Regions from separate parts of the Homo sapiens genome. Here region 2 is reported to be linked to region 1. Evidence: microRNA targets listed by miRTarBase, many of them from high-throughput screens and not tested one by one. Region 1 holds a microRNA gene; the other region holds the end of a gene's coding sequence.
Evidence for each region. Region 1 holds the annotated microRNA hsa-miR-6771-5p (CUCGGGAGGGCAUGGGCCAGGC, at 7,894-7,915, opposite strand). A microRNA usually pairs through its seed, bases 2 to 8, with sites in the 3' UTR of a target mRNA and lowers its output. Matches are read on the target gene's strand: a 7mer-m8 pairs with bases 2 to 8, a 7mer-A1 pairs with bases 2 to 7 and ends in A, and an 8mer does both.

Region 2: the mRNA of TFIP11 is a reported target of hsa-miR-6771-5p. Seed matches in the 3' UTR shown: 7mer-A1 at 9,480-9,486.

The regions. Positions count from the first base shown.
Region 1 is chr16:50,283,368-50,300,535 of GRCh38, reverse strand. It overlaps MIR6771 (microRNA 6771), which reads right to left and starts at 7,920; the gene lies at 7,861-7,920. ADCY7 (adenylate cyclase 7) reads right to left here. Exons shown (of 26, transcript NM_001114.5): 2 at 12,186-12,624; 3 at 9,876-10,079; 4 at 8,639-8,800; 5 at 7,711-7,860; 6 at 7,034-7,182; 7 at 5,785-5,896; 8 at 1,505-1,632. The coding sequence starts at 12,356. RefSeq lists an enhancer at 16,101-16,602.
Region 2 is chr22:26,482,111-26,492,509 of GRCh38, forward strand. It overlaps TFIP11 (tuftelin interacting protein 11), which reads right to left. Exons shown (of 15, transcript NM_012143.4): 15 at 9,130-10,258. The coding sequence ends at 9,903. SRRD (SRR1 domain containing) reads left to right here and starts at 1,767. Exons shown (of 7, transcript NM_001013694.3): 1 at 1,767-1,989; 2 at 3,913-3,953; 3 at 5,919-6,178; 4 at 6,280-6,378; 5 at 7,934-8,088; 6 at 8,915-8,960; 7 at 9,353-10,399. The coding sequence starts at 1,781. The coding sequence ends at 9,562. HPS4 (HPS4 biogenesis of lysosomal organelles complex 3 subunit 2) reads right to left here and starts at 1,673. Exons shown (of 14, transcript NM_022081.6): 1 at 1,564-1,673; 2 at 1-130. RefSeq lists an enhancer at 1,721-1,840 and a silencer at 1,861-1,950.

The DNA of each region.
Region 1 (17,168 bases):
CAGGAGCATACAAGTAGGTGTGGCCACAGCTGACCTCAAGGACTAGGTAGGAGGGAGGAGGAATTCCAACTAGTCACTACAGCCCATGTTGATGGACCTAAAATACCATCACTGGGTGTTTTCCCTGCCCAGCAGCACCGGCTGGGTTTTAAAAGTTTACTGGGGGCCGGGCGTGGTGGCTCATGCCTGTAATCCCAGCACTGTGGGAGGCTGAGGCAGGCAGATCACCTGAGGTCAGGAGTTTTGAGACCACCCTGGCCAATATGGCAAAACCCTGACTCTACTAAAAATATAAAAATTAGCCGGGCATGGTAGCAGGCGCCTGTAGTCCCAGCTACTTGGGAGGCTGAGACAGGAGAATCGCTTGAACCCAGGAGGCAGAGGTTGTGGTGAACCGAGATACGCTCTGGGCAACACAGCGAGACTCCATCTCAAATAAATAAATAAATAAATAAAGTTTACTGGCGTCTACAGAGGGGGTCCAGGAACCACCCAAAACCTAGCATAGACAAGGAACACAGGGGCCCAGACCATGGGCACCTTCTATGCCCCCCCAATCCCTGGGAAGCAGGGGCCCTGGGAGTTGTTAGCACCACTGAGCACAGGAGCAGAGCCCCACGGGAGAGCTTCCTTGGGGCACAGGGGACGCCCAAGACAGGAACAGAGCCTGAGTCCCCATGACAAGCGGCACCACGTGTCCACCAACAAGGCTGGGCACTGACCAAGCCTTCCAGGGTCGGAACCAGAGGTGCACGAGGGCCTGTACAACCTCCGCCTGTTACAGGGCAGGGGCCAGCCTGAGGTCACACAGGCAGTGGTGCAGGCCAGGCCCCTCCAGCTCTGCCCAGGCTTCTTTCTGGCAACACCAGCCACCTATGGCAGGACTTCAGGAGAAGGACAGGCTGGAACACGGCCTGATATCCAGGACGGGCAGCCCCACCGGGCCCTGCTCTGCCCCACACTGGTCAGCCTGGCTGGGCCTGCCTGGCCCTCTCCCCATACAGCCCTCTCGGCAAATTCCTCCCACAGACCCCAGCTGCTCAGAGCCACAGGGGACCTAGAGGGGAGCGGGGGGTCTCCCCGCAGCCTCAGGACCAAGCCTGACTCCAGGATCTTCACTGGGGAGCAGGAAGCAGATGGAGCCTTGGAGTCGACCCCTGGGTCGGAAAGGTCCCCCGGCTGCCTACCCTGAAGCCTCCTGCTGTTGCTAAGACCCCATCCTTGAGGGGAGCGGAGCCCACCGCCCTGACCTCACATCACCCAGCTCTGAGCTCCGGAGATGCTTTCTGGGACTCAGAGTCACAGGCAGCACCACAGGGAGGGACGCAAACAGATGAAGTCTGAATCCTCCAGCAGGCTGGGTGGTCCAGGCAAGCTGCTTTCACCCCCAACCCCCCGAGCCTCAGTTTCCCCATCTGTGACATGAGAATGACACATCCCCTACCATGCCCAGGAGGGTCCGCCACAGGGCAGGACCCAGGGCCTGGGCCCGCCCAGGACCTACTTGATGGCCTGGCACATGTCCAGCCCCATCTTCACGCAGTTCCGGGCGTGGGTAGGCAGCGACACGGGCAGGCCCGATACACAGTAGTAGCAGTCGCCGAGGATCTTGATTCGCATGCACTCGTTGGCCTGCAGGGTGAGGGAAGGGCCTGGTCACTGGAAGATGTGGGGCTGGGACCTCTCACGACAGCCGCCTCCCCCCACCCTCCAGGGTGCACCCGGCTCTCTCCTGGCTGGGGGCTTGCCTCCTGGGGTCCAGTCACCAGGAGCCACTTCTGGGCCTGGCAAAAGGCTTAGCGACATGGGGGCCTCCCCAGGAGGAACCCCCAGGCAAGCACCAGAGGTGAACACGAGTGTTCCTAAGGGCCTCGGGGAGGGGTCTGCCTTGGTTTCATTTGCCCAGGTAATGTTTGAGTGCCTACTGAGTACCCGGCCCCAGGCCAGGCAAGGGGACACAGCAGTGAACAAAATAGATGCAAATCTCTGCAGCCACGGAGCTTGCACGTAGGCAGGAGGGGTGGGCACTAAACTAGAAAGACAAAAACAAAACAGTGTGCCCAGCTGTGATGGGGGCTAAGGAGAAAACCAAGGCACAGGAGGGAAGTGATGTTCCCAGGAGGCCAGCGAAGACCTCTCAGAGTTGGAATCAGAAACATTTGAGCTAAGACCCCGAGGAACCGAGAGAGCCGGCCATGCCAGTCTCTGCAGGAAGAGTACTCAAGGACTCACAGGAGCCCTGGGGCCACAAAGCTGGGGAAGAGACTGCGAGGTAGCCAGGAGGCTGCAGGAGTGGGGGGTGAGGACAGAGGTCACAGGTGTACACACCAAGGGATCAGCAGGTTTCAAGGTCACCCAAGCAGTGGCTGTGCTGACAGGGCTTAGGGGTGGGGAGGAAAGATATCAATGCAGAGAGGAAAGAGGGAATGGGGAGGGCAGAGTAGGAGAGCGGCGAGGGTGGGGACTCATAGGAAAAGGCCCAGGGAGAGAAGGGGACCCCCGAGAGCCCTCTGAGGTTCATCTGAGGCACTGCTGCGTCACCAGACCCTCCTTAAGCCCTCAGCAAGGGTGGCCACATGCACCGAGGCCTCATGGGTGGGGCTTTAGGGGAGCTGAAGAAGGAGCGCCATCTGCCTCTGCTCTCCCCTCCCCACCCTCTACCCCACTCAGCTGACCCTCGGACTGGACGCCCCAGCAGGTGGCCCTGTGCTCTGGCTTCTGGCCAGGAGGGAGCTAAGAGGGCTCTGTCCTGCAGGCTCACGAGGGCTAGGCCTGCTCCTGGAACACCATCTGTCTCCAGGACTCGAGCCTATCCTGTCCTCGTCCCTACTCTGTGCCCATCAGCCATCACAGACCCAGGCCCCAGACACAGCACCAGCCCTGCCTCCAGGTCCCCTGCACCTGCCCAGCCTGGGAACCATCCCTGGCCTGTGCCCTCCGCCAATTACTCAGTTTCAGCGTGTGCCAGATGTTTCCTGCTGGGCCCCATCTGGCACATGCTGAGTGAGTTCTGAGTGACTGCAAGGACAAGAGGACAGTGGCTTTCCTAGAAAGCAGGCAATCTTGGCAGACCTGGATACTAGGCTCCAGCTACCCTGATCTCCTCTCGGACCAGGCACAGGACTGCCCATGGACCCAGCCCAGCTCTCGGGGATGTAGGAGAGGCCACATTCCCCCGGCTGCTCCACCGGCTGACAGTCCCCTGTGTCTCTGACACTTGGAGTTGGGGAGCTGGGTCTTGTGCGGAGGTGTGACTTGTATGCCTCTGAGAGAGGAGGCCCTGGCTCTTGGAAAGAGCTTACACTTCTGGAATCTGATTGTTGATAGGAGAAAAGGCTGGGACCAGCCCTGCCCAACTCTGCCCAGAGATTAGATGCTCTGACTGGGAAGCTGGCACCTGCCATGGCCTCCCTTTCCCCATCTGTGCAATAGGGCCACGCCTCCTGGGCCTGCTGGAGAGGGAAGACTGTGTCCAAGGGCAAGGGACCCTCTGTGTGGGCTTTATGGTAAGGAAAGGGCCAGCTGTGGCCCGAGCCCAGGGCCCCTGCCTCACATGAGGCCCAACCTCTGGGGCTCCCAGCTGCTGGTTCAGAAGCCATGCAGATCCTGAAGGAAGGTTCCAGGCTAGACAGGCCCTCTGAGTCACTCAGTCCACAATCCCCAGGATGGGACAGTTTTCCAGAGCATCCCTGACCAGTGCAATCCTGTAGAAGCTTGGTTACCCCCTGCAACAGGGAGCCCACTTCCAGTCCCTCCTGGGATTGAGTAGCTCTGATCATGAAAAATTCTTCCCAGTGTGAAGTCATAACTTGCCTCCCATCAAGTTCTAGACCATTGATTCTCTGCCCACAGAGACACCTGCGGGGCTCTTACAAATTCTGGCCAGGCGCAGTGGCTCACACCTGTAATCCCAGCACTTTGAGAGGTCGAGGCAGGCGGATCACAAGGTCAGGAAATCAAGACCATCCTGGCTAACATGGTGAAACCCCGTCTCTACTAAAAATACAAAAAATTAGCCAGGCGTGGTGGCAGGCGCCTGTAGTCCCAGCTACTCAGGAGGGTGAGGCAGAATGGTGTGAACCCGGGAGGCGGAGCTTGCAGTGAGCAGAGATCACACCACTGCACTCCAGCCTGGGCAACAGAGCAAGACTCCGTCTCAAAAAAAAAAAAAAAATTCTGATGGGGCAGGGCATGATGGTGCATGCCTGTAATCCTAGCACTTTGGGAGGCTGAGGTGGGTGGATCACTTGAGCGTAGGAATTCAAGACCAGCCTAGACAATGTAGCAAAACCCCATCTCCACAAAATACAAAAAAATTAGCCTGGGGTTGTGGTGCACACCTGTAGTCACAGCTGCTCGGGAGGCTGAAGTGGGAGGACGCCTGAGCCCAGGCAGGTTGAGGCTGCTGTGAGCCATGATTATGCCATTGCACTTCACGCTAGGTGACAGAGCAAGACTCTGTCTCAAAAACAAAACAAAACAGAACTCTGATGGGTGTGGACATGGGCACTGGTGTTTTATTTAAGCTTTCCATGTGATTTGCATGTACAGCCAGGATAGGGAGCCACCACCTTAAATCTTACACTTCAGTCTCTATTTAATGGCCACCACTTCCAGGAAGCCTGCCCTGATCACCTGAGGCTGGGCTAGGTGCTCCCCAGGCTTCCTGGCCCCCACACTTCTCTTCTTCAAAGCACATACCATGTAGGCCCAAGGCCCCACCCAGACTCAGGGCCTGGCACTTACCCTCTCTCAGGACCATTTGGTCCATTAATGGAAATGTTGCTTGCCTTACCCCCTCCCTGCCTGGCACGTGTCGAGCTCCTCAGCATCCTGGTCCTCGCCTCAGCCCTCATGTCCTTGCATGTCAGACCTTGTGCCCTTGTCCCCCTCACACCTCACACGCACACTGAGCACGTTCACCCCATGGACACACGGGGCTTTCTTTCTACTCCAGGCTTTGTCTATGCTGTTCCCCCTGCTAAGAACACTGTTCCCTTTCCTCCTCAGATATTTTTTCAAGTATCTCAGACTTTAAGGTGGGCCAGGAGTGGTGGCCCACGGCTGTAATCCCAGCACTTGGGAGGCCAAGAGGGGATGATCACTTGAGGTCAGGAGTTCGAGACCAGCCTGGCCTACATGGCGAAACCCCATTGCTACAAAAAAAAAAAAAAAAAAAAAAAAAAAAAATTAGCCAGGCGTGGTGGTGCATGCCTGTAGTCCCAGCTACTCAGGAGGCTGAGGCATGAGAATCACTTGAGCCTGGCAGGTCGAGGCTGCAGTGAGCAGTGATGGCACCACTGCACTCCAGCCTTCATGACAGAATGAGACTCCATCTCACAAAAACAAACAAACAAAACGTAAAAGTTTAATGTGCACATGATTCACCTCAGATCCTGTGAAAAGCAGCTTCTGGGTGAGGCTGGGCATTCCACAGTCCTCCTGAGCTACCAGGTGAGTGGAGGCTGCTAGCCTTGCCAGTGAGGATGGAGCCATCTCCTCCTCCTGAGCCCCCATCTGAGCTCCAGAGCCCCAGTATATCGCCCAGTGTGCACTGTCAGTCTCCCCACTGGCCTGTCACTCTGGGGGCACAGGATCCTGGCTGCCGTGGCCACCACTCACCCCCACCTTTACCATGGGGCGCTTGTGTTTGCTGGCTGGATGCTAAAATTCAGCCACGCCTCCCCATCCCAATTCCAGCAGGGCACTGAACACAGGACACCCCTGGGGTGTAATAGGCAGGGGAGGGGCCTGGCTTTGCCCATTGTAGGCCAGCGGGCTCACCTTGGCGATCTGGTCGAACTTGCCAAAGAGCTCATTCAGCACCACCACCAGCTCCTTGGGAGAACAGTCGCTGGCCAGCTGCGTGAAGCCCACGATGTCCGCATAGAGGATGCTGGGGATGGGGCAGGGTGGGAGGGAGTGTCAGAGCCAGGCTCCTAGACAGCAGCAGCAGGAGCACGCAGGACTGTCTGGAGCCCCAGGAGCCTGCCAGGCCTGAGCCCATTCACCCCCGTCCTTCCTCAGCCTCCATAGGGATGGGAGAGTCGCGCCCAGCCATAGAGACAGATTAAAGTTCCAGGGGCTTCACGTTAAAGCAGAAGGGAGCAAAATTCAGAGCCTACAGGAGCCCTCGGCCCCACCCCAGGCCCTATCACTGCAGACAGCCGAAGGGCACTCCTGCAGGCAGCCCGGAGCCTTCCCCTTTCCCATCCAATGTTCACCACAGCACAGACTTCAGAACTCCCTGGTGAGAGGCAGCTCCATGCTCCCTCAAGCCAACCTCCACACCCAGCACTTTACAGGCATCGAGTCCTCACACAGCCCTTGCCGAACTCCCGTTCTACAGATGCACAAACTGAGGCTCCAGGACATTGAGACTTGCTGGGAAGCCAAGAGCTGGCATCTGCACCAGTTCTCCCTGCTCCAAAGTCCTTAAGCTCATGGACCATCCACAGCCCAGAGAAAAGGCAGCGGGCCAGCCTTGGATGTAATGCTGGCGCTGCAGGCAGAGGACCCAGGGGGTCTCCTGGGACCCACATCTACACTCAACGGCACCCAGCACCCACATCGACACTTGACAAACTCAGGTCAGTGCATTCAAGTAAAATTTTGTGGTTCCCTGCAAATCAGCCAAAGACAGGTGTCAGAACCGGGGCACTCTTGGGCACCAAGGCCGGGGGGCTTTACCTCATTCTGGGGGTCCTGTGCTCCCTTGAGAACCATCTGAAAGGACCCCTTCCTTCACAAAAGCTATGTTTGCTCACACAGTTTTACAGTTTTGGGGGTGTGCTAGATCTTTCAATACCAATCTAAATTCTCTAATTTAAGAGCCCTGATCTGATCCTGCCCACAAGTGGGGGTTCTGAGACCCAGGGAGGGCCCCAGATTGACCTGGAACCATGGGGCCCTCTCCCAATCCCTATATGGGCAGGGGTCTGAGCCTCCAGATAGGGCGGGGAGGCCGCCTGGGGGCCGGTGGAACGGTGGGCCCAGTCCCCGGGATATGCTAATCACACGTCTCACCGCCCACCTGACATTCTGGTGCCTCTTGACGTAGAGGCTGTGGAAGTTGTTGTCAGGCATGCAGCGACGGTCACCATGCTCCTTGAGCCGTTCGATGATGGCCAGCTTCATGCCCATGGAGATGTGGGCCGGAAGCACTGACAGCAGCAGGTTCTCCTGGGTGTGGGTGGGCAGACCAGCAGAGGGACCAGCAAAGCGACCGGCGGAGGGACCAGCGGGGGACAGGCAGGGTAGCATCAGGTCCCAGACCTGGCCTCCTTGGCCCCCATCCTCCCTGCCTGCCTGCCCTGCCCACAATGTCCCCATCTCTGCTCTTGTCCTCCACCAACCCAACTGAGCATCTACCTCCCATGTACCCAGCAGCCCCCGGGACTCAGGGTGACTGAGAAAGGGCTCTTTCAGCTGGGGAGGCTAAGCTGATGGGTGAGCAGCCTGGAGCCACTACGGCCTTCTCTGCCGCCACCTGGGGACTGCGTGCCCAGGACTGAAACCACACAGAGGAAGGCAGAGTCAAGGGTCAGCAGGCTATGGTTACCCTGCTGGAGCCCAGGACTCACCGAGGTGAGACCTGCATGGGTGTCTGGCCATGCACCTCATGCACATGGCAGCATGAGTGTCTCATGTCCAACAGAAAGAGGAAGAGGACAGGGGTGTACAGGGTGAGGAGTGGGGGCCGGGTCCCACCTGCTGGCGCTTCTCGATGCGCAGCTTCCGGCGGATCTGGATGCACTTCACAGTGTAGGTGAAGAGGTCCCGGGATGCATCCTGCATTTGGTGCTTGTGGAAGGCGCCTGTCAGGTTCCCACACAGGAAGATGACTGCGTTGGCCAGCAGCTGCGGGTAGACAGGGGTTTGGCTCATTATGTGGCCTGGCCCATGCCCTCCCGAGGCACCAGACCCCTAGGCGGACTAGTGATGGCACCTCTTCCCATTCCCTGACCTTCAACCCACTGAGAATGGCACTCTTCCTGGGGCAGACAGGGAAACTGAGGCCCAGACAGGAGCTAGTCTCCTAGTGAGTCACTAGGACTGCAAGACCAGGACACCCAGGGAGGCAGAAGAGACCACCTCACAGAGCCCAGGGCCCGAGGGGCATGCGTGCTAAGGGCAGTCCCAGAGGGCACAGCGCCCAGCTGGCTGTGTGGAGGGCCAGCCTCTGCCTGGAGAGGACACCAGGCCTGGTCAGAGGGAAAACACTTCTCTAAACACCCAATAATTATGAACAGAAGATTCACTCATTCAACACAAAGACACAAGGCAGTGCCCTGGGGTACTCCCCCAAGCCCCGCCAGGACAGGGCCTTCGAGGGGAAACTTCGGCAATGGGACTCACCCCACGACAGTGTCCCTGAACCGGGAGGCAAGGCCTGAGGTCACGACCCTGAGGGCTGAGCCACAGGGGAGCCCTAGGCCAGCAAAGCAAAGGCCAGAGGGCAGGGCCACGCCTGGAGCCCAGCTTCCGAGCAGACGTGGAGAGGGCCCGGCCTTGGAGCGGGCTGTCTGCAAACACGGCTCCGGGGCCTTCGGGTCTGATTCACCCAGAGGGGGCCCCCCCATCTGCCCTTAGACCCAGACCACAAAACCTCCCCCAGAGGCCTTAGCCCATCCCTCACCTGCAGCCCCACCCGGACACTGGGTGTCGTGAAGCCTCCCATCAAAGAACCGAGCACCAGGAGGTGGGAGGCAGTGGAGACGGCCCCAACGGCGACAGCGCCCCGCATGCTGAAGGGCAGTAGTGTGTACACCACGAAGACAATGAACAGGAAGAAGGGCACCTGTGGATGCAGCCTGGTGAGCCCGGTGCCCCAAGATGCTGCCCCAGGCCGTACAGCCCCCGGAACCCTGCACCACAGCAGCCCACCCAGTGCGTATCCTTAGGTTGGCTCCCTCGCCACCCCCTGCGTGGGCAGACATACAAGGGAACAAGAAAAGCCATAATGTGTTTCTAGGGTGGGCCCGGCCACAAGGTTCATGGTTTCCTGTGCTGATCCACTGCCTGTGGCCACCCTAGGTGGGAGGCTCCATGCCCCGCGTGATCCAGGGAGCCCCCACCTGGTGCCCCTGCCACGTGGTTCTCGCTCAGCAGAAATGATTACCGGGAGGCTGAGGCACCCTCTCACCAGCTGCCTCCAGCAATGCGGCCCCACCCGCCCTCCCTCCACCCCCAGAGCTGCCCCACCATCCCCACCGGCTGGTCCTGCGTCCACCCCTCTGGGAGTGCTGCCCTCTCCCTCCCCTTCAGTCCACATGGTTTCCTTGGGCCTCACCCCACCCTGCCCCAGCCACAGGAGCTGTCATAGGACCCAGGCCCACTGGTCAGAGTGTGCTACCGCTTGGTGACAGCCTCTCTGGGACTGGGCCCATGACCACAGCCAGGCCAGTGTGGCTCAAGCCTGCAGGTCGAGCTGGTTGAGAAAGGGCCCTCTCTCTCAACTGGGGTGGGCAGCCTGGAGCCGCTGTGAACTTCTCTGCCCCCACCTGGGGACAGCGTGCCCGGGGCCGAAGCTGTCCAGAGGCCCCAGTTCCAGTTACCCACTGGAGCCCAGCACTGACCCCTTGGCCTTTCCTGACACAGGAACCAGTTTGTGCCTTTTTGCCTCTTTGAGCTGAAGTTCTGTCATCTCCAACCAAACTGGAGCCACCCAAAAGTGCTGCAGCCCAGCGTCCGAGTGGATGCTCTCCCCACCTCAGCCCTGTCAATGCAGAGAACTCACAGGGACAAAACCAGCCTGGGGCCATCCTAGACACACAGCCAAGCGTGGGGCACGAAGGGCCTGTGGCATGCCCACCAACCACGGGGATGGGAGCTGCTGAAGGCGCAGCTGGCAGGGAGTCCAGAGTTCCTGTTACCTGCTCCCACGCACAGGCCGCCTTTGTCCATGCGTCGAACACCAGCACATAGCCCAGCGCCACCAAGCAGGCCCAGGTGAGCAGCGCCAAGGCCCTGAGCCAGCGCCGCAGGAGACACTCGACGTACATCAGCACAGAGAGGGCCGCAAACACCGCCAGCACCAGGAACGCCATGCCCAGAATGGCCTGGTGTCTGGAGGGGTCCTGGGTGGAGCAAACAGACAGGAATGCCTCGGCTTTCCCCAGTGCAGAGCCACCTCCTCCAGAAAGCCTGCCGGGCCGGCTGCCTCACTTACAGCTTCCTCCACGTGAAGGGTGTGGATGCACCCTCCCACACCTGGTTCCCACTCACCTTCTGGCCTTTGTCACCTCTGCCAAGGCTGCCTCAACCACCCCCTTCCCATCATCTCGGGAACCAGAGCATCACCCACAGCCCCGCCCATGATGCCATCACTCTCCATCTGCCTCTGCCTCCTCTCTGGGTTCCCACGGTGCTCTGTGCACAGCCGCAGGTGATACCACAAGCACAGGGCAGGACTCATTCACAGGCAGAGCCTTGTAAAGCCGCCCAAAGAGGACACTGCGCCTGGCCCTCAGTGAGTGAGCAGAGGCTGGTGAGGGATACCAGGAAAAGTCATCCCACAGGGGAGGAGCTGAGGCAATGGCACAGAGGTGGGACAGGACGGGCACAGCATCCGGGAGGTCCGTGGGGGCAGAGGCCTGATCTGGGGGCTGGCACACAGTAGCAAGCATCCTGTGGTTGGTAGCCACATGGATCCAGGCTGCACTGGCAGCTGCTAGGTCCTGGCCACTTCACTCACATAAACACCCTGGAGTTTCTGAGTGTTCTTCTAGAACTCAGCTAATCAAATTTACATTCACTAAAAAGAAAATGGGCTGGGCATGGTGGCTCACGCCTATAATCCCAGCACTTTGGGAGGCCGAGGCAGGTGGATCAGCTGAGGTCAGGAATTTGAGACCAGCCTGGCCAACATGGTGAAACCCTGTCTTTACTAAAAATACAAAAATTAGCCAGGCGTGGTGGCATGGGCCTGTAATCCCAGCTACTCGGGAGGCTGAGGCAGGAGAATCACTTGAACCTAGGAGGTGGAGGCTGCAGCGAGCCAAGTTGGTGCCATTGCACTCCAGCCTGGGCAATAAGAGCAAAACTCTTTTTTTTGAAAAATGCAGTTCCTCAGTCACATTACCCACTTTTTAAATGCTCAATAGCTAAACACAGCTAGTGGCTGTACCAAGGCAAGTGCCTGGGCCGGAAATGACATAGGTGGTGCCAGCCTGGAGAGCTGTGTTAAAAAGGATTCTGAGGCCGGGCACAGTGGTTCACACCTGTAATCCCAACACTTTGGGAGGCCAAGGCAGGAGGATTACTTGAGGCCAGGAGTTCAAGACCAGCCTGGGCAACATAGCGAGGCCATGTCTCTACAAAAACAAACAAACAAAAAAAAAACAAAAGGAGGATTCTGAGAATGTAGACAGGCTCAGTGTGGAATGTAGGGATTGATTAATGATGTCTGCATGGGTACAGGAAGTGAGGGCAGTGATACACAGGCCATCCCTGACCCAGGTCTTCAGTAGAATCGAATTTCATCATGGAGAAAAATGAGAGTAGTTTATCTGGACAAGTTAATGTAATGTCTGAAACCACTCCAGACTTCAAAACTGAATTAAAGTTAGAGAGGCTGGGCATGGTCGTGCATGCTTGTACTCCCAGCTACTCAGGAGGATAAGCCAGGATGATTACTTGAACCCAGGAGTTCAAGGCCAACCTGGGCAACAAAACAAGGCCCAGTCTCAAAAAAAATTTTTTTAAATTAGAAACTTGTCTTCTACCAGTCTAAATGTGCTGTAAAAGACAGAGCATTGGCCGGGCATGGTGGCTCACGTCTATAATCCCAGCACTTTGGGGGGCCGAAGCAGGTGGATCACCTGAGGTTGGGAGTTCGAGACCAGCCTGGCCAACATGGTGAAAGCCCATCTCTACTAAAAATACAAAAATTAGCTGGGCATGGTGGCATGCACCTGTCATCCTAGCTACTCGGAAGGCTGAGGCAGGAGAATTGCTTGAGCCCAGGAGATGGAGGTTGCAGTGAGCCGAGATCATGCCACTGTACTCCAGCCTGGGTGACAGAGTGAGACTCTGTCTCAAAAAAACCCAAAAACAAAACAAAACAAACAAAAAAGCATAGCATTTTACAGAAGATAAGCATTTTACAGAAGAGGCTAAGAGAAGATAGCAGCTTGGCCAAGGTTGGGGCCGAGACGTGAAGCCCAGGGGCTGCCCTCACTCACCCCCTGGCTGAAGGCAATGATGATGAGGGCCACGCAGGCAGTGGCGGCCACCAGCAGGAGCGTGAGCAGCAGCGGCCCATGCTGGCTGGTGAGCTGGTACTTCTCGTAGAGCGCATCTTGGTCAGGGCCCTCCTCGCCCTCGTTGAGGAAGTAGCGCCCCTTGGCTGGCATCCTCCACCCTTGGCACGCGTGTCGTTAAGGGGCCGTTAAGGAGGCCCCAGGGCCTGGAGGGCATCTGTCTGCCAACACCCTCCCCCGTGGGCCTAGGCCTCTGTCCTCTCCGAGGCAGGCAAGCAGGGCTGGGGAGAGGGCCTCTGGGCCTGCTGCTCCATGGCCAACAAGGGGTCCGCACAGCTCTGGCACCAGGCCTCACTCACTGTGCCGCCAGCATCCTCCTGTGCATCCAGACTGGGCTGACTCCACACGCAGTTCCTCAGCTCTGCGGAGACGAAGCAGACAGGAACTTGACCTAATGGTCCAAGTCAGGGGAGGGCTAGCATCAGGGAGAGCGGGGCCCAGGCCTCACAGCACCAAGTCTGATTTATCCATCTTAACCCTAACCTAACTTTTATGTCCTGTTGTCGTAAAGCTAGTCCCCTGTGTCTTCTAGGACTGCACTGTCCAAGATAGTAGCCACTAGCCACATGTGGCTGCTTTTTTTTTTTTTTTTCAAGACAGGGCCTCACTCTGTTGCCCAGGCTGGAGTGCAGTGGCACGATCATAGCTCACTGCAGCCTCAAACTCCCGGGCTCAAGTGATTCTCCCACCTCAGCCTCCTACGTAGCTGGGACTACAGGTGTGCAGCTAATTTTTAAATTCTCTTTTGTAGAGATGGGCGTCTCCCCCTGCTGCCCAGGGTGGTTTTGAACTCGTGGGCTCAAGCAATCCTCCTGCCTCAGCCTCCCAAAGTGCTGGGATAACAGGCATGAGCCACCATGCCCAGCCACTATTTTAAATTAAATTTAAATTAATTTAAAATAAAATTAGAAATTCAGTCCCTCAGTCACACTAGCCACATTTCAAATACTCAACAGCCAGCCAGGCATGGTGGCTCATGCCTGTAATCCCAGCACTTTGAGAGGTCGAGGCAGGCAGATCACCTGAGGTCAGGAGTTCGAGACCAGCCTGGCCCACGTGGTAAAACCCCCCTCCACTAAAAATACAAAAATTAGCCGGACATGGTGACGTGTGCCTGTAATCCCAGCTACTCGGGAAGCTGAGGCAGGAGAATGGCTTGAACCTGGGAGGCAAATTTTGCAGTAAGCTGAGATCGTGCCATTGCATCCAGCCTGGGCAACAGAGTGAGACTCCATCTCAAAAAAAAAAAAAAATCAAATACCCAATGGCTACATGCAGCTGCTGTACTGGACAGCACAGATAAACAGAGAATGTCTATCATCACAGAAGCTTCTACAGGCCAGCTCTGCTCTGCATGTTTCACTGTTTTGCTTTCACACAAAGGTCTCTGATCCATTTCGATTCACTCTGGGTATGGTGTGAGGTAGGGATCAAGGTTCACTTCTTTTTTCCATATGGATATTGAATTATCCCAGCAGTGTTCAGTGAACCGGCCATCCTCTCTCTGAATTTCAGTGGAGCCACCTCTGTCATAAGTCAGGTGATCACACACAGATGGTGTCTGTTTCCAGGCTCTGCTCTGTCCCCATGGTCCTGGTGCAATCACCACATTCACTTCATTTTCCAGTGAGTCTCATGCCTCCAGGCACAGAGGGTTCCAAGCTGTGATCCTAGGAGCCCTGAGATTTGGGGACATGCATCAGGCCCCCAATGGGAAGGGAAGGTGGGGGGGCATAGGCTCAGGCCCCCATGCCTGCTTCAGCCAGGGTAGCCCCCTGCATCTGTGTTACAGTAAGCTCCACATAAAACTGCATTTTCTTTCTCTCTTTTTTTTTTTTTTTTTGAGATGGGGTCTCACTCTGTCACCCAGGCTGGAGTGAAGTGGTGTGATCATAGCCCGCTGCAGCCTCAACCTCCCAGGGCTCAGGCAATCCTCCCACCTCAGACTCCTGCGTAGCTGGGACCTCAGCTATGCAGGAGGCTAAGGTGGGAGAATTACCTGAGCCTGGGGAGACTTAGGCTGCAGTAGGCCATGTATTTTTTGTAGAGATGGGGTTTTGCCATGTTGCCCAGGCTAGTCTTGAACTCCTAAGCTCAAGCAATCTACCCTCCTCAGCCTCCGAAGTGTTAAGCTTTCAGGCACTGTACCCAGCAAAAATCTTGTTTATTTTTTTAAATAGCCCACTGATACAAATTTCAGATGTCTGCAAGCCGTGCTTCACAGAAAAGGGAGCTGAGTCTCAGAGAGGGACACAGTGGCCCCTTTGTGACAACACTGTGAGCTGACCCCACACTTGCCATGCTCAGCCCATATGGGTTCCTTCTTTCCCCAGCACCATTCATTCCTTAGCATATTCATTGATTCCAAAAAGGCTTGTGAATCACACCTACGCCTGCCAGCCCTTATATCTCCTGTGTGCTAGTCTGGGCTCTCTCTCCCCAGGGATCCCCATCAGTCTCCAAAGGTAGGAAAATTACCAAAATTGTGCAATCCCTCACACAGCAATGGGGACTTGGGGACAGCTGCCATATTCCCAGCAGGAACCTTGCATGAAGGGGGCAACCCTGGACCAAGAGTCCACGCCCCCAGTGTCCTCCAGGCCTGCCTCAGATTGGAACCAGGACAGGGCCAGAGGCAGAGGGCAGGGAGGCTGTGAGACACGGGACAGCTCAGAGCAGTCACAGGGCACAAATGGCCAGCCGCCAGCAGAAGCTTCAAAGGACAGCTGGTCCAGCGGAGGGAAGATGGCCAGGTGAGCCCCCAGCCCCCAAAGGCAAAAAGCAGGATATCCAGGGTCCCCAAGTCCCCAACCAGCACCTGCTAGTATGAGATCCCTGGGGCCACCTCAATTCCAGGAGCCACCTCAGGCTCTATTTCCTCTGGAAGTTCCTATTCCATCACCACACACCAGGAACAAAATGGTAAAACCACATATTTGGGGAAGGAGGAAGGGGTCATTTGCTGGGGGCCCCATCCCCTTCAGTGCCTGGGCAGGTGTCTACAGGCCTTGGCACCTGTTCAACGAGGGGCAACCCTTCAGGGATGTGGCCAAGAGCTGTCAAAGTGCCCAAAGTGCTCAGACAGGCTACAAATCTGATTTCTACGTGAAATGATGATTTTTAAATGTTGGCAGCTGATTTCAAATTTTTCAATATTTGCAGCCCACTAGTTTACAACCTCTAAATCTAAACTAATCAGTCTGTATTCCACAAGAGGCATTTACTGTGTGCTAACCATATACATCCAACCCTGTGCTGTGGGGGTTGCCAAACAAGATAAGGTCCCTGCCTGAGATACATTCAATTCAGCACCCCCCACCCCAAAATAGCCCTTTGCAGTAATAACAGCAGCAGTTCCTGTCACCCCCGGCACCTGCACACACATTCACTCTCATCTTCACAACCGGCAAAGGCCAAGGTGGCACCACCGTCTCACAGATGCAGAACTGAGCCCAGAGAGGCAGAGTGGTTGCCTAAGATCACACTGCTGGAGCTGGTGGACAGATAGGCTGGGATGCAAACCCAGGTCTGCCAGCTCCCAAACCAGGGCTCCTCAGCCCAGGCTTGCCCACTGACATCCCGGGGGACTGAGCCAGATGCCACAGCACACAAACAGCAAACCCACCTGACCCCTGGCCTGCTGCCAAACACCAGTGCACCAGGACAGCCAGGCTGAGAAGCTCCAAACACCAGAGGGCTGAGGCCACTCCCCACAACTGCTCCATCTCCCAGGCAAAGCCCCCAGACCAGAGCTGAGGCGGCCAGACACGTGCATGAAAGTGCAAGTGTGAGAGTGTGTGGACACACCCGCTCCAGGCACACAAAGCCAGGCTGGGCCACCACGAGGAAAGGGAGGAACCAGCTGAGAGAGTCCCAAGGGCCCGTGGGAACACAGGCCTGGTAAACACGCCTCTCAAGGAACTCATTAGGCCACTTTCTGGGCAACGGCAGGCAGGCGCAGGTGGACAGTGGACAACATGGGCACAAGGACTTCAGCCCATCCAGGGACCTTGGCCAGCTCCTGGAACAAGCCGGGCACCGTGAGGCCTGGGGGGAATGAACTCACTGATCACATCTCCAGAGGGGGCCCAGGAACCCACCACCAGTGGCATGTCCCCAGGCCAGCTCCTCCCTAGGAGCCACCCCGCCAAAGCCAGACCCAGAGGCACCCCCTGCCCGGGAAGTTTTCAAGGCCTCCTGTCCAATCACCAGTTCTTCCACCAGCCCTCGACTCAGTTGGCAACAGGGAGGGCCTCCCCACAAGGCCCTGGATAAAGGAATCCTTCTGCCATGTCTGAGACACATCCAATCCAGGGCTCCCGGATTGAATGACCCTGCTGTTAGCTTGCACACCTCCATGACGGGGGGGCTCACCACCTCTCAGGGCAGTCTCCTCCATCACTGGGCACTTTTTCTGGCCCTGAGTCCTCCCTTAGCTCAAGGCAAGCCCTGCCTCCCTGTCACTCCCTCACCCACACCGCATGGGTCCTGTCTGAACTCCAAAGCCACCAAGAGCAGAGGTATCACGTCCCCTCTTCCTGAGGAGACTGCAGTCCCAGGGGGTCCCTTACTTACTCTCACCTCACGACCACCCCAGTGGTAGAGCAGGGTGAGCAGCCCCATTTTAAAGAAGAGGGGACTCCCCTGTGGGGAAGGTGTCCACATGGGAGGAGGGTATTTCATGCTTCTGCTGTGCAATGTCCCTTCTCCCGACCCTCAGTACCCTGGTTCATGGGCCACATGACCCCAGTGTGGCCAATCAGCAAAGTCCCTCTCAAGCCCTAATGCCACAGGCCTGGGAAGTGAAGGCTCTCTTTGGACTTCTGCTGACCCAGGGAAAGAGGCGTTCTCTTTTGTCGGTGACCTGACACTGTCAGCAGACACCCGAGCCACCACAAGGAGAGA
Region 2 (10,399 bases), not on the chromosome of region 1:
AGCCAAAAGTGGGAGATGCATGCTAGAGCTGGTGTTCTAAAGAAATTTCTAGCTTGTCTAGTTCAAACCCATCCTGAAGACTCTTATTAAACGTTTTGAAGTTTCCAGTTCAAACATCAGTGCCTTGGCTCTGAAATAAACACAAGGAATAGATATTTCAGCAACTCGTGAGAGAGCATGTGACCCAGCAGGATTAAACGAATGGTATATTTCAAAAGAGCTTTCTGTGAGGGTGACAATCATGCTTCAAAATCAAAGAGGGAGGCTTGCAGAGACTTCAGAGTAAGGGCTTTAGTTTCTCGAACAGTTAAGGGAAACACACCACAAGCTTCACGGAAGATAAAATCAAATGACAGGGTGAAAATGCTCTAGGTGTGGACAGCTATACAAATAAACCAGTTGCTGTGGTAATAATGGAACCCAAATTAAGGAACTGTCATCTTGACAGTCCAAAAGTAACCTGAACATGCAGAATTCCAGAGCAGGGCAAATTTCTAAAAAATGAAGAGAACTTTATCAAATGGCTTTCAAACTTCCACAAGAGAAAGACAGCTCAGTGTATCACGGAATTTCAGAGTCGGAAGGAACCCTGGCATCGTTTACTCTACTCTCCTGCACTCTTTTCCAAAAATTACCTTGGCTGTCTCTGCTTTACACCCTCCAGAGATGCGTGGTTCACTATGTTACATTTCTCCTTCCAACAAACTAAAATCTGCGTTCCAGATTTTACATCTGCCTCCCACTCGCTAGTCTGGATAACGCTCTGCAGGAAAACACAAAACAAGGTCTAATTCTTCCATGTGACAACCTCTTGGTCACTTCAAAACTATTGTCTAATTCTTACTGTCACTTTCTCCAAGCTTAATGCTTTAGCAACATGGTCTCAAATGTTTGCTCACCATTCTGCAATCTGTGGGTACACAATACAGTTTGTTAAAAGTCTCTAGAGACGACCCCCATTGAATATTTGACGGCCTGTAAAATCTCTATCTCTTCTCAGCTCTAGATATTTTGGATTGGGCCTCCACAGGACCACACTCATTGTATTCTATGGAGCATATTTGGGTGCCTGTGGAGGGGGTATCTCTGTTACTGGAACCAAGGACAGCAGCCTAAAACTCCCCATCCCTTGTTCCCAGAGGACTGGGCCCTACACTACCGAGGTCCTCTCTTATCTCTGAAAGGTCCAGAAGAGACCAATAATGGCCCTGGAGTAGGAAGAGACGTCGGAACATGAGCAGAAAAGGATCTGGTAGCCTGGGAAGTAATAGTAACAACGCGGGGCTGGGGCTGGTGATACTGCTGTGGGAAGGGGCCTCAGTGGGGCAGCAGGGCTGGAAAACGGACGCTAATGGCTGGAAAAGGGCCAGGAAGCTGCTGGGCGCAGCCCCCGGGGCGCAGGCAGCGACTGGTAACAGCACTAGGGCTGTGCGGTGTCTGGCCCCAGCTCTACGGGACTGGGAAATGGTGGGCGAACGCCTAAGGATTAGGCGGGGTCGGGTCACGCTCTAAGCTGGGGGCCCGCCCCTCGGTATCCCCGCGCTCCGAGCGCCGCCCACCCACCGGAGTAGCCAGGCATCCCAGTGCTCGGGGTTCGGGACTCTGGACCAGAAATGTGGGCAGCAGCTGGGTACCTGCGACTTCTGCCCCGTACCTGCGCGCGCGGCAGAGAGGCCTTAGGTCACGCGCCGCCCCGCCTACCTCCCCCTCCAGCTCCTGGCAAGCCGGCGCGCGGCGATGACGTGCCGAGTGCGCCGCACGCCGCTGACGTCAGAGACCAATGGCTGCGGCCGCAGCTGCGGCGCTGGAATCCTGGCAGGCGGCGGCTCCGCGGAAGAGGCGCTCCGCGGCTCGACGGCCGCGGCGGAGGGAGGCGGCGCCCCGGGGGAGAGAGGCGGCGCCCCGGGGGAGAGAGGCGGCGCCCCGGGGCCCCGAGGCGGAGTTCGAGTCTGACAGCGGAGTCGTGCTTCGTCGCATCTGGGAGGCTGAGTGAGTGCAGGCTCGGCCCTGATGGAATCTTTGCGCCCATGGGCAATTCTGAGCCACAGTCTCCCCATCTGTAGAGTGGAGATATAATGCACACCCTTTAAGGAGTTATTGTGAAGAGTTAACGTAGGTAACGAGCTCATTAAAGATGTGGATTATAGTAAGCGCTCAGTTAAAGGTCGTCTTTCCTTTTATTACGGTTACAGCTGCGTGACCTTGGACAATTTATAATCTCTGTGCCTCAGTTTTCTCATCTGTGAGATGGGGATGAAAATAGTACATACGTAGGTTTGTTTTGAGGATTCAATGAATTAGTAAACGGAAACCATTTTCTGGCACGTGGTAAGCACTGTGCCAGTGTTTGCTATTAATATTATGCCGATGTTGATATTATTGGTGGTGGTGACACGAGGGAAGCAACATGAACACGTGACTGCTATCATCAGGCAGCTGCTATGTGCCTGACATTAGCTTAATCATTCTACACACTTTATGTTAAACATTGCAGGCATACTAGGACCCTGGTAGCTCACTGATTCTCAAAGAGACAAAGAAAATGTGTGGAACCAGATTTCAAACCCAGGTCTTTGTGACAAAAACCAGTGCTTCCAGCTTTCCATTATGCTTGTTGCTTATCCCAGCCCAGATTCTCACATACCTTGCTCTGTACCTTAGAAAGTACATAGAGAGTGCCTAATACAGAGGAAACACTCAATAAATGTTACTTATTATTGTTATTTAGTATTATTATCTTTATTCGCAGTTTTGTTTAGGCTCAATAAATAACAGCTTTAGTTAGCACTTAAGATCAGCATCCGAAGGGCCGTCACAAGGGGAGAAATTAGATTAATTTTGTGTGCTCCTCTCCCCTAGAATTAGGGTCAAGAGGCAGTAATGTCCCAGAGTTTACCTCTGAAGAGAAAGTTGCTGACCATTTGGCTCAGCCTGAATAAAAAGCACCTGCGATTATTTTTAAGCTCTCAGAGGATGCCAGTGAGAGTGAATGTGCCTAGGGGTTTGGAAAACTCAAGGCATTTTTCATATCCCTTGACACTGTCACGATCTCCTCAACTGCTTCAGTATTCCCCAGGAGCTCCTTGCTTCTCCCAACACCCAAGTGTGGTGCAATCACCATCGCTCTGAGTAGAGATTGAGCCAGCATTTTACACGCATATCTGTGTACGCATTTACCAGTTCATAAAGCATTCCTGTGTACATCAGAACTCTCTACCCTCTGTGAGAAACGTGCAGCAGCCTCTGGGCCGACTTTCAATTCTCTGTACTCCTTTCTGAACCCCATAATCACTGTCTCTGGCTGTGGCTTGTCAGTTTAAATCCAGTTCATTTTAATTCACTGTTGACTTTCTTTTGCTCTGGGTCTGTAAAACCAGTTGACTTGAATAAAGAAAGCCCAGACACTTGGTTTTGTCTCTTTACTTTCCCCTTAAAACTATTTATAATAACAAATACCATTTGTTGAGTACCTGCTATGTGCCAGACACTGGGCTAAGAATGTTAACCCATTTTATGCCTCTAAACTCCTCCGTGTTGGGAATGATTTTTATCCCCATTTTAGAGATGAGGAAACTAAAGCTCAGAAAGGCTAATTCTGAGCACTTAACAACCATTTATTGAGCTGCAATTCTATGCTAGGCTCTGTTGTAGACTGAGAATAGACCCAGATCTCTCTCTGGGAATCAAGGACCTCCTCCAGCATACTCTCTCCTGCAGTCTCTGAGCCCCAGCAGTATGTGCTCTGGCTCTGGACATATTCAACATATATCCCCCTCCTATCACTTGGTAAGGGTGGGCCCTGCATTGCAGGGCACCTCATTCTGTAAGCATTCAGGTCATGATCAGGAAAGTTACTGTTGGGGCAGCCCTGAGATGGGTGGGACATGACTGTGCCATTTTTTTTCTCAACAGGAAGGACCTGTTTATCTCTGATTTCTGGAGTTCAGCACTAGGTGGGTACCACTTGGCCAATGGTAGGGATTGTGGGGCAGAAAAGAGAATCAGTCCTCATTTGAGGACATTTTGCTTCACAGAGGGATAACTTGCTGGGTTCTAACGCCGCCCGCCCCTTACAGCTGTATGTCTTTTGGCACTTAATTCTGATCCTCAGTTTCTTTATCTGTGAAATGGAGATAATGTGTATATCCTATAGTTTTGAGAATTGAAGCTGTTTAGTTAAATGCTTGCCTGCTGTATACAAGGCAATAAATGTTGTCATTATTATTGCTGAAATTTATATTTATCCTGTTCCTTTTCCATGATATTACAATGTAGCCTTTTCCTCGTGCAGTGATAATCTCTTCCTAAACATAGTGTGTGGGTGGCGACATAATATTTATGCATGGAGTGGACATACCATAGGTATCATTTTTATTGTGGGACATTTAGTTTTCTTCTGTTGTTTTTCAGTTATTATTTTAGGACAGTGTCTTACTCTTCGCCTAGGCTGGAGTACAATGATGCAATCATAGTTCACTGCAACCTGTACCTCCTGAGCTCAAGTGATCCTCCCACCTACAGCTTCCCAAAGCGCTGGGATTATAGGCATGAGCCACCACAACCAGCCTTTTTAAGTTATTATACATAATTTTGCAATGAGTAACTTTATGCATAAAGCTTTTACCAAACTTAGGATGATCTTCTTAGGATATATTCCCAGAAGTAGAATTAAATGAAAGGCGGTGACCAACTTGATATCTATTGTCAAGTTATCCAGAAAATTTTCACCAATTCTTTTATCAAAATTGACCTGAAGAGCCAGTTTTTCCTGGCTTGGGGTCTTGTTTAAAGATGTCTTTGCTGCTTTTTTTTTTTTTTTTTTTTCTTTTGAGACGGAGTCTCACTGTGTCACCCAGGCTGGAGTGTAGGGGTGTGATCTCTGCTCACTGCAATTTCCACCTCCTGGGTTCAAACAATCCTCCTGCCTCAGTCTCCTGAGTAGCTGGGACTACAGGTGTGTGCCACTACCCCTGGCTAATTTTTGTATTTTTGTAGAGATGGGGTTTCACCATGTTGGCCAGACTGGTCTCGAACTCCTGACCTCAAGTGATCTGCCCACCTCGGTCTCCCAAGGTACTGGGATTACAGGTGTGAGCCACCATGCCTGGCCCTTTGCTGGTATCTTAAGTGAAAAGTTGGTATCTTATTGGAATGCACGGCTTTTTTTGTTTTGCTAAATTCAGTACCAGTACAATAAAAGGAGAGACAAGAGAACCTACCTCTACATGAGAAGACTTAAACAGAGTATAACTTTATTTTATTTTTTTGAGATGGAGTCTTGCTCTGTTGCCCAGGCTGGAATGCAGCGGTGTGATCTCGGCTAACTGCAACCTCCACCTCCCTGGTTCAAGTGATTCTTCTGCTTCAGCCTCCCAAGTAGCTGGGACTACAGCTGTGCGCCAGTACGCCTGACTAATTTTTTGTATTTTTAGTAGAGATGGGGTTTTGCCATGTTGGCCAGGCTGGTCTTGAATTCCTGACCTCAGGCGATCCACTCACCTAGGCCTCCCAAAGTGCTAGGATTACAGGCGTGAGCACCTGGTTTGTTACAACTTTAAAAGTACGCATTTCAGAGCATAGTCTACATTTACTAGGAGGGTCTTGTTAAATTAGAATGAGTTCACATTAGAGTTTTAGATGGAAACTGCCCTTGAGTGAAACCCAATTTCTGCTTGCAACATGCTCTTGGGTTTTGGGAGTCCAGGGGCCGGGACAGTTTGTCAATTGGTGGTGAATGTGACTGTATGTCCAGGCATGTTTGGGAATGAGGCTGGCAGCTTCTCTCTCTCTCTGAAGAATTGAAACCTTTTACTGCCCTGATCTCTTTCTCCCCAAATATGTGAACTTCTTTTGTGGATGATTTGGTTCACAGGGTCAGAACATGCCCTCTAACTGCATTTGGGGGCCTGCTCTTTCAGAAACCATCAATAGATGTCTCACAAAACATCTGGAACAACTGAAGGCCCCTGTGGGGACTCTTTCAGACATCTTTGGAAACCTGCATCTTGACTCATTGCCAGAGGAGTCAGATGTGGCCACTGATTCTATCCCAAGAGAGATCTTGGTCACAGGAACCTGCCATTTGAAGTGTGTGTGTTACGGCATTGGGAACTTTGCCACCTGCATCGTAGCTAGAAACCAGCTAACGTTTTTGCTGCTTTTGTTGGAAAAGTGCCAGGTACATTTTTGGATTCATTTTCATCTCCTCCTCCTCTGGTCCTATACATGGGTGCACACAGATGTTTGGGTTGAAGTAAACAACTCATTCTTCCCTTCTAGATTCCCAGAAGTCACTGTTGGGTATATGACCCTCTGTTTAGCCAACTTGAAATTGAAGTCCTTAACACCCTTGGTGTGACTGTTCTCAGTGAGAACGAGGTAAGTGGTTTAAAGGGGAGCAGACAGAACTGTAAAAATCCTGACCAGACTCACCCCAGGCCCTGCCTGTGGACACCAGCATTCTTTGCAGTGGCAGCCATTCCTCTCTTACCGCCTGCTCACTTTTGTAGTGCCTGAACGATGTAACCAGCCAATCAGTTACCTACATTTTGGCTTGTGTTGTGCCCATCAGAAAAAAATTACACAGATAGCATGAACCAGAACATGTTAGGTCTGCACCACTTTTTTGAGAATTATTTGTCTGGAAATTATGCTAACTTGGTATTTGCTGTTGCTACTGAAACATAAAAGTCTAGGTGCCTCAAGTGAGGTCTTTGTGGTTGGATTTTATCCTGTCCCAGGGAGGTAATAAAAGGGGATGCAGCATTCCTCTTTGATGCTATAACCCAGTCAAACCCATAGCACCTGGCTGTGAGTTGTGGATTAATTCTCTGCCCATGTTTGCACCCCCCAAAATAGCTGGGATTTGACATTTCTGAGACCTGTGGAATAAAGAAATGCATCCCTAAAGCACAGGGCCAAAGCCAGTATGAGCAAATCCCTCCGATTTCGGTTTTGTATTGTCTTGGGGATTAGAATCTTTTGATTCCTGTGTGTGTGCTGAAACTGCCATCTTATTGCTTATTATGTATGAAAATTTGGCTCAGTTGAGAGAAGAGTCATTCCCTGATATTGGCAAGGTCCTAAAACACTGTCACTCAGTTCAGATCATCTTTCTGGGTGCCTGTTCTGTGCTAGGCAGGGAGCTTTGGGGAGACCAAGAAAAATGGGAGCCAGTCCCTGTGTTCAGGGAGCCCATGGTCAACAAGTGAATGAGGAATGAAATACTGAGGCAGAACCTTGTACTACGACAGGTGTTCGGAGGGATGGAGGAAGGATTCCTGGGTCTGAGCTGGGCTTTGAAGGTCTACCAGGAGTTTGCTAGTGGGACAGAACCAGGATTGAAGGTAGCTGTGCAGTGCTGGCTGTTCAGGAAACCACTGCCAGTTTGTTATTAACACAAGGGAAGCTGCAAGGAGAGGAGAGGCAGGCCAGAGGTGGGCAAGGGTCAGACAAAGGGCCTTATGTTCCCTGCTGGAGTTTGGCCAGAGAGCAGTGGTTCTCAGGAGGGGTGATTGTGCCTCAGGGACATTGGAAGAGGACTTAGTTATGCAGATCTGCAGGAAGTGACATAGGAAGTGTGGATTACTGAACACAGGGGAAATACATGGGGTAAGTAACATCACTATCCCTCCTGTTCTTGCCGTCATAGACCCAGGAAGCCCCTCCATCAGTGCAGGGCTTTGTGTTCATGAGAACACAATGTGTACATTTGTTAAGTAAACATGAGTTCTTTCGGGACATCATGATTTCCTGACTCTTTAGTCCTGTAACTATAGATTTCATATACGAGTGTAACTGTTCCACAAAATGAGCTTTTTTCCTTTTGATCCTTTAGTTTGTCTCATGATTATCCCCATCCTTACCTCTCCCTCACCTTGCTGTAAAGAATAGGTTGTGGGCATGTTTACACCTGTGAATATCGTATCCCCAGGAAGGGAAACGGAGTATTCGCGGGGAGCCTACCATCTTTTACATGCTCCATTGTGGGACGGCCTTGTACAACAATCTTTTATGGAGTAACTGGTCAGTAGATGCCCTTTCTAAGATGGTCATCATTGGGAACAGTTTCAAAGGACTTGAGGAGAGGTAAGTCTGAGAATGCTGAGATTCTGTCAGGCCCTGAGGTGAAGCCCATACCTCAGATTGACCCACATGCAGAAAACATTTCCTTGACGATTCCATACTGGGGAAATGCTTTTCCACAGGGAACTGGATGAAGGCTTAAAGACAGATGTCAAATCCTGATTCGAACTATGAAGCAAGTTAAGGAGTCTTTTTGCCACGAATTCCTCCCTTCCATTATGATACACAGAAATGGTTTTGAAAACAGGGAAAAGCTATTTGATTCCTCTGCCTACAGCTCCACGTCCTCATTCTGTTTCACGTGCTTAGGAGTCTGCTCAGTCATTTCTCTTGATGAAATGGGCACAATTACTGGAATATTTGCTTTTTTTTTTTTTTTTTTTTTTGAGATGGAGTCTCACTCTGTCCCCCCGGCTGGAGTGCAGTGGTATGATCTCAGCTCACTGCAACCTCTGTCTCCTGGGTTCAAGCGATACTCCTACCTCAGCCTAATGAGTAGCTGGGATTACAGATGCACACCAGGACGCCCGGCTGATTTTTTTATTTTTAGTAGAGATGGGGTTTTACCATGTTGGCCATGCTGGTCTTGAACTCCTGACCTCAAATGATCCGCCCGCCTCAGTCTCCTGAAGTGCTGGGATTACCTGCGCCTGGCCCACATTTTCAACTATTTAACTGGTTTACTCCACATCTTGAGTTTTTTCCTGAATTCTTACTATGCTTCAATCATCTTGCCCTTCTATGTGTCTTAAAAGTTGAATGAAACTATCCTCATACCTCCTAATCATGGTGTTTTTTTTTTGTTTTTTTGGTTTTTTTTAATTTCTAGGTTGTTGGCAAGGATTCTGCAGAAAAATTATCCCTACATTGCAAAGGTATCTATCTGAATAAAGGGGCTGGGATGGAAAAGGGTGTGAAACTGTGAAGAATTCTATCTTTCTTTACAGGCGTAGGAGGAAACTCATGGGCTAAGTGGCGCTAGTGTACTGTCAGCTCTCTCCATGGGTCTGTGTTCCAGAAAGCTATGACTCTTTAATGCATCTCTTAGTTTTTTCCTTATTTCCTTTATTCTTAGTATCACAGTCCATGATATCCACTGTCCTTGGGGCGCCCAATTCATTGTGCAAAAGCATTTAAATCAAAATACCCTATTTGTTATTTTTTTAAAAAGTAAAGTGGGGATGACAAGTAAAGTGGAAATTTATCCCAGAAGAGTGGGGATTACTGTGACTATCTGAAGTTTTTATACTTGAATTTTTCTGCTCAGATTTTAAAAGGACTGGAGGAGCTTGAGTTTCCTCAGACTTCACAATACATGGACATATTTAATGATACCTCTGTCCACTGGTTCCCTGTGCAAAAGCTAGAACAGCTCTCCATAGATATTTGGGAGTTTCGGGAAGAACCAGATTATCAGGACTGTGAGGACCTTGAAATCATCAGGAACAAGAGAGAAGATCCTTCTGCTACTGACTGAACTCGTTGTGAGGTACTCAGTGTTGGCTGAGGTAGAAGCTGCCACCAGAGACTAAAGGGAAGGCTGCTATGGAGGAACTACAGAGAACTCCTTTGCCAGGAAAGAACATCAACTTGGCTGTCCTGTTTTGAGGACGATACCCCACATGAGGACTTGGTATAAAGATTCCTGCCCTACGTGGCATTGTCCCATTTTACATCCTTCCCTCATGACCTGGCCTGATGTGGAGTAGCTCCTGAGTAAAGAAGTTACCCTTTTGAAGGTGATCTAAAAATACTGTTTATTTACAGTACATCCCTCTTAGGGGCAAGTCTCTGACTGGTTCTGGACCTGCCACAGTTCACTTGGCCATGTCGATCAGGCTCTGCAGTGAGGTGGGCACCCACGTCTTCTCGCCCTGGACAAAGACCACTCCCCGGTCGATGTAGATCACAATGCGGCCAAAGGTGTAGAGCTGCTTCCCTTCGTGTCGCTTCCCAATGACGGGCATGAAGACAATGTTGTGCTCCTCAGCCTTGGTCTCAATGAGGTCCTTAAAGTTCATGGGCACAGAGCTAGCGGCCACGCCAATGCCCCTCTGAGCCATGTTCTCAGCCTCCCGCCTCTCCTGCATGGCCTCGTACTGGAAGTCCTTCCTCCGCTCCGTGTGGGTGAGATAGGCAATGTTCTCCCGTGCTCCTGGCTGCATGTAGGCACCTAAGATACAGGAGGACAGGGCGGTGAGGAGAGGTGTTTCCAGGTGTATGGAAGTTGACACTGTGGCTTGGCCCAGGTCTTGGGTGTGCCAGAGTGCTTGTGACTCACTGAAGGGCAGCTCTGCCTCAAAGATACAACTTT